2 separate regions of the Homo sapiens genome follow, and region 1 is linked to region 2. The links come from fine-mapping of genetic effects on gene expression. A gene starts in region 2. The other region holds a variant in brackets. All regions are shown on one strand. Distances are from middle to middle.

Region 1 (5,380 bases), 56 kb after region 2:
TCCAATTTGCCAGTCTGTGTCTTTTAATTGGAGCATTTAGCCCATTTATCTTTAAGGTTAATATTGTTATGTGTGAATTTGATCCTGTCATTATGATGTTAGCTGGCATATAACCTGCGTCTTACCTGACATAAAGTATATTTCTTTGTTGATGTTGTTGTCTCCACAACAGGAGGGTTCCATACACCCTGTCATTTGTTTGCTCTCTAATTCCCAGTATTGGGAACAGCCCTTGTCCCTCAGTCAGTGCTTAGTAAACACTTGCTGAGTGAATTAATTTGATGAATGACAATTTTGAAAATAAGGATGTCTTGGATTAACTAATTAGCAATTTTATTTGTGTGAGTTCTGCCTTTCAGGTTTGGTGTAAGATTTTGAAAAATGTCCTTTTTTTTGTTTGCTTTTGGTTTCCTGCTTTTGTGCTTCATAGTGAAAGACCCAGGTATTTAAGTGGACCCCATATAATACTGATTTCAAGAGTTCAGATCATATTTTCTGGCTCCTTTTTGGAGAATGTCTTTGGAACCCACAGGATCTGGTAAAAAGAAAGAAAAAGAGAAAAAGAAAAGAATATTTGAATGGATAGACCAGACTTCAATTTCTGTCTCAATAACCTATTATTTCTGGGATATTAATTTCCTATTTTATTTGGGGGGATTGATAAAATCTGCTTTACCCAGATGTGATGAGCAACGAGGCTTTTATGGCCTGGCATCAGGGTGGATCATGGGCTATTTCTCTCCTTTGCACACAACTCCACAAACACACAGCCTTGAGATAGGACCTACTGGGGTCTTTACATTCCATTTAATGCAAGCCTTTGGGTGAGTCCTGACTCATCAGTAGCAGCAGCCTCACTGGGGTTGTAATCCCCTGACTTATTAAAGACAAGCCATCCTCGCACACAGGGACGAGGAGGTGCAGGGATGTTCTCCTGACAACCATCACGTAGTCCTTTCTGATTTGTCAGTGGCATTGCATTAAAATTGATCCATTTCCCAAACTCCATTGCTGTCCTTGTCTTATCAAATTATAGACACAGCTAGAGCCCATCAGTCCTTCCCCCTGGGAGTGGGAACTCCTCAGCACAGCAGGGCTTTCTGATACAATGTGGTTTGCTTGGAATTCATTACTAAGGGGACTTGGTGAATTGGAGATCTATTACTTTTTACATTCTGCTTTCTGTGGAGTGCCTGGGATAACATCCTGGCTACTCTCCAGAATGTTTTTGATTGTTTTTGTGCTCCTCTCTTTCTTTCTGTTTTTATTTGCTTTGTTTTATTTTGCTTTGTGTTTGGTGGTAGAGGTCAGGTTGAGACAACACAGTAGAAAAAATAGTAACTCTAGATCTGCGAGGTCTAACCTAAGTCTTAGCTACATCCTATCACTTGACATTTTTAAACCCATTGAAAGAGGATGTTAAACAGCATTCACTTCAAAGGATGTTGTATGTGCCTGACACATAGTAGTACGTGCTCATTAAATGTTTCATGTTGAACAAATAAAATAGTAAACACAGAAATATAGACACACAACCAAACATATACATTGTGCCTATAAAAAGATATTCAACTGCCAAGGTTTTTCATATATATATATATATATATATATATATATATATATATATGGTGTCCATATTCTTCACGTTAAATTTTTTTATTTCCAAATTGAAGATGCTAGGCTAAGACAAGCTGTATTCTAGTTCTATTTCATATACCTTGGACAGATTATGTAATAGTTTAAGACCCTCAGTTTCCAACATTTGTAATATTAAAGGAGGAGATAATACAATGGTCCTTCACATCGTTTGCCTGCTGCATAAGGACTTACAGAACTTGACATACAAAATATTCAACTAACACCAATCTGCATCACTCGGTGTGTGTGTGATTTCCCAACACTTCTCTCTTTTTCCCCCTTATTTCCTCCTTCCTTCCAAATTTCTCTCTCTTTTGCTCTGTAATTATTTATTTGCTGTCTCCTCACACAGCATATTCTCTGTCATCAAGACTGCACTCTTTGAGTCTTCAGACTACCCCCTTCTCACAGCTGCTGAGGGTAAAATATCCTTGCTTCCTAGGTCCACTCATATGATCGAATTTGAATCAAGGTCTCAAGCTAATCTAAGGAAAAAAAAAAAGCAGAGAAGCTATATGGCAGAAAGCAGAGAATTGGAAGGGAAGTCACAAAAGAAGAGAACATACTTGCAGGCATTGTTTCAGGT[A/G]GTGAGTGAAATCTGCAAACAAACAGAAATTCTTTCTCTCGTGGAATGTATGTACTAACTGGAGAAAGCATTGTTTAAAAAATAAGCAAATAGGATGTCAGGCTGTGTTCAAGAGAGTGTATTTAGTTCTTCACACAATAGTGATGCTGATGGATAAAGATTTCCAGTTTGGTCTCAATCCAATAAAACACCCCCATTCAAAGTGTCATTGTCCCACTCTTTCCAACTGATGCCCTAAAGCTCACAGAAGAGACTTGTTGGGTGTGCAAATTTGGCTTTCCTCATAATTCTGCAACCTGCATAAGAAAGTTTTAGTTCTGATTTTCAGCCTTATCTTCCCTGTGACTACATGAAATAAGAGATTATTTTAGGGCTACCCCAGAAACAAACTTGTTCTCTCATCAGAGCTGAGTTGATAGACAGTCTGAAGGCTAGATCTTGTTATTTTCCTCTGTTTACTCTCCAGTGCTGTAAAAAATATCCATCCCAGCATGCTTGTATTCATCATTAACATTGTAGCCACGTGGAGCAGCCACTCGGTCATCCAAGGCACTTGCTAGAGTGAGCACTTCCTCCACTGAGGCTGGAGGGTCTACGATGACTTCACTCACATGTGTGGGGGTCTTGGTGCAGGCGCTAACTGTTCCTCTCTTTCTTTAAGGTCTGTGTTTAGTATTCTAGTGTAGGCTTTGTTACATAGTGGCAGGAACACTCCAAAATAGCAAAGTAGAAGGCTCAGGAACTCACACAGTTTCACTTCTGCATATTCAGTTACCACCCAGACCAAGGGGCATGGAAATTGGCTCTACCTCTTGAGTTGCATGTCATGAAATATCATAGCCACTTTTTCAATCAATTAGAGGAAGCCTACAGTATGAGTATATCTCAGAAATGTGATAGATTTTAAATTGATCTTGCCTTTCTAAAGATGTTTCCCATCTATACTCTGTGAGAGACACCTCTAAAATATCTCATGTCAAAAAAGTATTGGGTAAGGTGTCCAGTAACCTAGGTTTGTGGTCTGGCTCTGGAACTGATTTATGTTATCTTGTAATGATAGCAATGATGATGATTTTGGTGATGACGGTGATGGTGATTTTATTAGATATGATTTAGACAATGCAGTTAGTACTTTCATGTGCATTATTATAAATATTTAAATTCTAATTTTACCTTTTTTGGACTTTTGTATGTATTATCTGTTAAATATAAAGCCCATATTTTACTTTTGTCCTAGATATTTGTCACTATCTTGCACCCATTTCTCCCTCCTAATAGCACCCAGACATTCCTCTAGATGAATTGTCTCTTGAATGTATGCTCTTGGTTGAAAGTAACCCCAGAAATATGCCTTCTTCTGGGGTGGCTTAAGGGTTCCTGAGACATTTATTTGCAAGAGCATAGCCAAAAGCTGGGGCGATGACCTTAATATGGCCAGGAAGCTACCTCTCACCTGGAACTTTAAGTCTTAACTGAGATGAGTCAACACAAAAGAAAACATTATAGTTCCTGCAGCCCAGTGGTGGGAACCTGGTGAGCTTGTCAAGTTCTCACTGATGAGACTGGCAAGAACACCCTGATAGCTCTTAGTTCTTAGCCTTGTTCATCACACTATCTTCCCTATGATCCTCGCACCTGCACTCCAGTTCTCCAGTGGGTCCATTCTTGCACAGGTAAGCCAGGATTAGTGTTGGCATCCCAGGAACCATGACTGCTTCAGTTATCTATTGAATTACTTTAGAAGTACCTGGAGTGATGGAAAGTGCTTGGCCAAAGTTTACAAAGCCCTGTAGCCAATAACTGGTTCCAAATTTCAGGTCTGCCTTTTCTGCTCACATTTCAACATTGGACAGTCAAACTTTCTAAGCACGAATTTCTTCAGTTGTAACATGGGACACAATAATACATCCCTAGCAGAGGGGTTAGGATTAAATTAGAGAGCAGCTGTGAAGCACCTGGGAGAGCTTCTGGCACACAGTAACAGTGGAAAGTTCTGGCACTACAGTAGAAAGTTCTTTCCCTTTCTGTTAATGTTAATGCTTCATCCCCATTCACAGAGACTGGAGTATCCCTTGACTACTCCAGTCAAAGGGAAACCCAACATGACATGTTCCCTCCCCCTAGGAAATGTCCTCCTCTGATGTTATGAGGTCGGCCTATGAAGCTTTACCTTGGAGTTTGAAGATGAGACTGGTGTTTGTAACCCATGAGGACTACTGAGGTCACATGGTGTAGTGGAATGAGAATGGGATTTGGGATCAGGCAGGTCTGAATTCATACCTAATGATGACATATGTGATTAGCTGCTTAATCTTGAACGTCATTTATTGTCCTATGTGCTATGATTCTCTCATATTGACCACACAGGGCCATTATGAAATGATAATTGGTAATTTACATGCAGGTTCTTTGTAACCTAGAAGAATATTATCTTTGTACTGGAGCCTCCTCAAAGATTTTCAGGTATATACACACCAGAAACTTTGCCTTGTACAGCTCCTGGTGGATAAATGAAGGCCTTCAAATGGGCAGGAAATAATCCAATTTCCATGAAAGTTAATTGAGCTCTGTGTTTTCTAAAGGCTAATAGCCTGGTGAGAGATGTCCTGAGTCAAGCTAATGTGATGACCCACTTGTTTTTTTAGGTACCAGTTATGGAACAGAAGCCACATCTGTCACTGATAACCTGTTTGTATAGTGACCTCTTCCACCCCACCCACAAGGTTGCCATGGCAATTTTAGGTCAAGAAGATCATCCCATTGAAAGACAGGAAATGCTAAGGAGTAAAATGCAGTCCCCAGGAAACCTGGTTTTAGTCCTTGCTACATATTATTAAATGGCTGGTCCAGTATCTGGTTGGGACTACTGTGCCAGGCATCATCCTCAGGTGATGTCTGATCATCCTGGCCTGTCTTTGGCAAGAATCCAGTTCAGTGGGTTTTGCCAGAATCCTTTTACTTCTGAGGTTTTCTCTTAGTTGTTTTCCATCCTCTGATCCCTCTCTTGTTCCTTGGTTATATATTTCCCCTTGCTTGTGCTGTATTCAAAATTGAACCCAGTTTTATATTGAAGCATCTTTTCTCCTGTTTCAATAATCCAGAATAGAGTCTGTTTCTACCACTTTAACTACTGCCTAGCTCTGTTTTTTTCTTTGA
Region 2 (5,380 bases):
ATAGATGACTCTGAGAGCTATTTACATGGTGGAATTGGCAGACGTTGGCAATTAATTCGGTTGAGGGAGATGAGAAGAGTCGAGAGAACGGGAGAGAGGGAGAGGTTAGGAAGCCTAGGATGATGGTAGGTTTCTGGCTTCTGTGATTTGATGGGCAGTGGGACATTTTCTTGGTGGGAGATAACAGTGGAGGGCTATTGCTGCTTTTGAGTCAGTTCCACCAAGGCCCAACCTGGGCAGTGGCAGAGGCTTTCCCTTCCAGACCTCCCCCAGGCCCCAGCTGTTCAGGGCCTTACCTTGCACAAGGCCCATTCATTAAGAGGACAATGGGTAAGGGGATCTCGGGGCCAACAGTGCATCACTGCAGCTGATTGATTAATGTCATGCCGGGCAGTCCATGAGCACAGTTTGAAGAAGACTTTGCAGTCATAATTCATAATACTATTTTACCACATGGGGAACAAGGATTGGGGGCATCTCTGGGGACATAGGGTCTCACTGGCACACGTTGCATGTTGCCTTTGAGGTTATTTCAAGATTCACTGAGATTCTAGTCATGGATTATATATACAGATTATGTGTATATGTATATATACACACACACATACACACACATATACACACATACGTATGTGTGTGTTTATATATATGCACATACACACTTACATATATGTGCAATTTCTTTTTGGCTTAAACATCAAAATGTTTTATAAAAGTGTATGTTGAGGTCAAGTGCAGTGGCTCCCACCTATAATCCCAGCAAGGCTGAGGCAGGAGGATCATTTGAGCCCAGGAGTTTGAGACTAGCCTGGGCAACATAGCCAGACCCCATCTCTACAAAAAATAAAAACCTTACCCAGGCATGGTGGTAGGTCTACAAAAGATAAAAAACTTTACCCAGGCATGGTGGTAGGTCTATAAAAAATAAAAACATTACCCAGGCATGGTAGTCCTACCTACTTGGAGGGGCTGAGGTGGGAAGATTGCTTGTGCCCAGGAGTTAAAGGCTGCAGTGAGTTAAGATTGTGCCACTGCACTCTAGCCTGGGTAACAAAGTAAGACCCTGTCTCAAGAAACAAAAAAATAGTGTATGTCAAAATTCTCACTCTCACTCTAACCTCGTCAACCTAGTTCTTCCACCCATCTTCACCCTCATAGCTAATAGCTACTTCTCCAAGTTTCTTACATAGCCTTCTAGCGTATTTTTATGCCAATGCAAGCAATACAAATATGTGTATCTGTCTCCTTGTTTCACAACAGTTGTCTTATTTTAATATTATCTTATTTTATCTATTCTGCACTTTGCTTTTTCACTTAATAAATCATGGAGCTGTTTTATCCAGACAATACATCCAATACAAGTAAATCCTATGCTCCTGGCATATCTCTACTGCTGGGGACTAGAAAATGCAGAGGAAAATAATGAGTGCTTGCACTGACTTTCAAAAATAAGGTTGCATAAAAATGCAATGTCAATAGCAAAATAAATGCCATATGGTTATGAACACATTTAAGAGACAAATATTGTAAAAGAAAAGCACCCATTTTCTCTATTGAGAAATTCATATTTATTTGCCATTCACCAAACATTTACTGAGGGTATGCATTGCCCTGGGCTTGCTGGGTGCTGTGGGGAGGACAAGCAGGGTAGATAGCTCAGAGCCTCCATCTGCCCAGGCCCACTATGTCAACAGCCTCCTTAGGACACCTCTTTCTGCAGCCTTAATCCCCACCCTAGCCAGCACCACACACACTTCAACTAAGGTGATCTTCCCTTCATTCCCACCCAGCCTTTCTCCTGCTTAAACTGCTTCACTGCCCTCCTCCCCACCACCTTCCCCATTCCCTTCCCATCCTAAGGGTCACATTGTCAAATTCCAACCCCTTCACTTGGATCGCAAGGCCTTTGGTGTGCAGTGCCTGCCCTGTAAACCTCACCACTCGCCTGCCTCACCTCTCCTTGCCTGCTGCTGCTAGGTTCCTGCTGTTCTGTCCTGCCTCCAGGCCTCTGTACCCTGCTCCTCTTGTCCTGGAAAGAGCAGTCTTCTCTACCCTTCACCGCCCCACTCATTTGTTCTTATACCTTTTTTTCAGGTATCTTTCCCCAATTACTTGCCCCTGCCCCCAGCCTGACAGGGTTAGAGACTCCTCCTGCCAACTGCAATTGCCTGGTTCCATTCCCTGCTTCCTCCTGGGGTGTGAGTTAGTGCAGCCCAGTCTAATGGGGGACATAGTCATCCTCTAATGCCTGGTTCCATTCCCTGCCTCCTCCTGGGTGGAGTTAGTGCAGCCGAGTCTAGTGGACGGGTCACTGGGCTTCCGAGTCCCAGTCTTGGCTCCTTCTCTAAGGCTGTTTTGTCATCTGTCACAGGCATGCCACGAGAACTTGCCAGCACAGTGGTGGTGATAATTAGAGTTCCCAATGCCCCTTAAGAATGCTCAGTAGACGGGAGCTGGCTTAACCCTCCCCAATCTTCCTCTCCCTCCTCCGTGGACAGAATCTCACACGTCTGTGAACCCCCACGTTCAGCATGAAGTGAGGAGCCCATCGGATGACGGGCCGGCTGGCTGGTTGAAGGCCACTGCTGACTTCGCATTGGAGGTATGGGTTGCTCAGCGCTTTTACCCTTTCTCAGGCATCTACTTGTTGCCTGGGCTTCTCTTCCAAGTTCAACAGTCCCCTCCCAGCCAGTTCTCCGCCGCGCCCCGCCCCCGGATATCTGCAGGGACCCTTTTCCTGCCCGAGGCCTGGGGTCTTGGCTCGAGAGGGGAGCCCCGCCGCGGGGACTGAGCATGCTCGCGCCGGTCAGTCTGGGAGGGCCGCACGCGGGGCCGCAGCCTGCGCCCTGGGCACCCGGGCGGCCGAGCGGGCGGGGTTTGGCCGCCGGGCGGCCCGCCCCGGGCTCCCATCAGGGCCTCGCGGCGGAGAGGGACCGAGGTGGGAGCGCGTGAGCCGCGCCGCCAGCCAGTCGCGCAGCGTCTACCCACGCGGTGCGCAGCGGCTGCGGAGCGGAGCCAGCGGGAGCAGCAGGGCGGGCTCTCCCGGCCGCGAGGGCGCGCGGCGCGGCGCGGAGGGTCTGGCCGCGTCCCGGCGGAGGAAGGAGAGGAGTGAGGGCGCCAGAGGTGAGCGCAGCCCGGGAGGCGCCAGCCCAGCGGCGCGGGCGCAGCCGGTCGGTCCTTGCTTTCTTGCGGCGCTGGCGGCTGCGTTCCCCCGACCGCGCTGACAGCCTCGCGTCCTGGCGCCTGCTCGCTGGGGCTGCCCGGAGGCCGCGGCCGGGCAGCTGTTGCACGGAGAGGGGGGCAGTTGCGGGGTTCCATAACCATAGCAACCGCATCAGCACCGGCGGCGGCGGGCGAGGGCAGCATCCGCTCGCTCCTCCTCCAGGCAGCCTCGCCGCGGGGACCCAACACCAGCTCGCAGGTGCTGCGGACTCCCCAGTCCGCCCGCCGCCGCCGCCGCCGCAACTGTTGGCGGCCAGAGACGGCGAAAGAGGAGAGAGAGGGACCCAGGAGCGCGGCCCCCGGGGGAGAGAGAGGGGAGCCCTGCAGTGGAGACAGGTAGGTGAGAGCGCTTCGGGGTCGGCAGCTGCAAAACTCTCTCGTCGGTGGTAGTGACGCTTCTGCAAGCGTGGTTGCCAGTTGGATGGCTTTCTGTCACGGAACAGCGATTCCGCCGCAAAATGTGGTTTATCTCCCTCGATTTTCCCCAGTCTCTCTGCCCTCCAGGTTTGCTGCACATCTGGACAGGTCTTGAGGGGATAAGAAGGGCCAGGGCTGTGAAAGGAGCGGAGAGGCTGGGTTAATGAGGGGTTCCCCCCAGGAGTCCCAGATGGAGGCTGAGGGGGCGCATGCAGACCTTGGCCATTGGGGTCCTTGGAGCCAGGGAACCCGGGGGCCAGGCTCAGGAGAAGACCGCACTGGGGTGGAGGGGACAGTGGCAGCGATTCCCTGTGATCCAGGCGAATGCACAGACCCGTTCTTCCTGTGGCTTGGCTGGGGACAGGGGTGTGCGGGGACACTGCAGCTCAGCTGTGACATGGAAAGGGACCAGCTCTTGATCTGTAGAGCCAGCTTCAAGCCCAGTCACTGGAGGGGATGTTTAGACGAGGCAAGTAGTAACTGTTATTATTTTGGGACACAGGAGTATCATGTTATTGCCGTTGACTATTAGGGATAGGATGGGAATAGAAATAAAATTTTGAGCTAGCAGTCAAGACTATGCCCTCCCCTTCTCCCCACCTCATTTCTAGCTCCCCACCCCACTTTGCCAGCAAAACAAGAATCACATCGCTCATAGTGACAATCCTTGCTCCTTGGCCACTGGCAAACTATCTCGCTTTCAGACAGCTGGAGACACCGCTTCAGTTGTCCATTTGAACCAGGGGGCATTGTTTTCCATCAGGTTATGATGCTCTTGATGTTAAGTGATGTGTCAAAGCCGAGAGGCACCTGGGCTGTCCATACAGTGTGATGGACTGTTAACTACATCTGCAGGCTGGAGAGAGGGCCAGAGCTTGGGGAGTGATTACAAACTCAGATCAGCTGGGACCAGGGCCCCGGAAGAAGGAAGATAGCATGTGAATAATTAGGGTCTGAAAGTTCGTGCATGTAGGTAAGTAGGCCTCTGAATAATATCCAGGATAGGCAGCCATTGACTTTGAAAGGGCTCTTCCTTTATATCGTGGCCTCGGGGGACAGTCTAAGTCCCAGTTAAAAGGCTATGTTCTTTAATTGGGCTTTTAATTTATGGTGTGGTTATGTTACCCAAGGGGATGTGATTTGGCCAACCTCTCATCTGGAGATTTATGTCATAATATGGATGATGTTATCAGAGCTTAGACAGATGGTTAGGTGTAGAGGAAAGTGGACCAGATTGGAGGGTCAGAAAACATGGATTTGAACTCTGATTTCCTCATGCACCTGCTGTGTGACCTTGAGTTGTTCCACCTCACTGAGGCTTCTTTCTCTCATCTGGAGAATGGGGATACTAACTAACAAGTCTTGCAGTTTACCAGGCTCAATCACAATCCAATGGGATGTGGAGAGGATGTTTGGGAAGGGCTTTTTAAAACCTGATGTCTTGTGCAAGTAAAAGGGATTATTGTTTTCTAAAGAATCTCTCTTCCTCAGATTGGCAAATCATTAAACATCCATCAACTACGAAAAGAGAGTGGAAATATTAGTCAGTGACTCACAGTGGAAACACTGTAGTCTGGTCCAAGATTCACTCAGGGCAACATAAAGAGGGCTTCTCAGGGGAAAATGCTGCATGCCATCCACCTTGCCTACAAGTGCTGAAGGTCAAGTGCTTTGCCATCAAATGCAGCACTCGTCTAGTTTGAAACAGTGAGGCCTGCTCACAATGGGTGGATTAAGTTTT

Alleles and levels. Alleles are on the strand shown, and positions count from the first base shown. SD is a standard deviation of normalised expression in the study named.
In carriers of allele G in region 1, the expression in testis of the gene that starts at base 2,968 in region 2 tends to be higher than with A alone (small effect, 0.14 SD a copy in GTEx).

The links. PIP is the estimated chance that this variant, and not a neighbour inherited with it, causes the effect. A credible set is the group of variants that fine-mapping cannot tell apart.
Region 1: its variant is the best candidate, but not a certain one, in a credible set for the expression of FAM135B in testis (GTEx, PIP 0.74).

Annotation. Positions count from the first base shown.
Region 1 is chr8:138,438,485-138,443,864 of GRCh38, reverse strand. The region is part of intron 1 of FAM135B (family with sequence similarity 135 member B); the gene reads left to right. Among named protein-coding and RNA genes, the nearest start is that of FAM135B, 56 kb to the left of the region's middle. The variant A/G (reference allele first, on the strand shown) is at 2,225.
Region 2 is chr8:138,494,849-138,500,228 of GRCh38, reverse strand. It overlaps FAM135B (family with sequence similarity 135 member B), which reads left to right and starts at 2,968. Exons shown (of 20, transcript NM_015912.4): 1 at 2,968-3,558.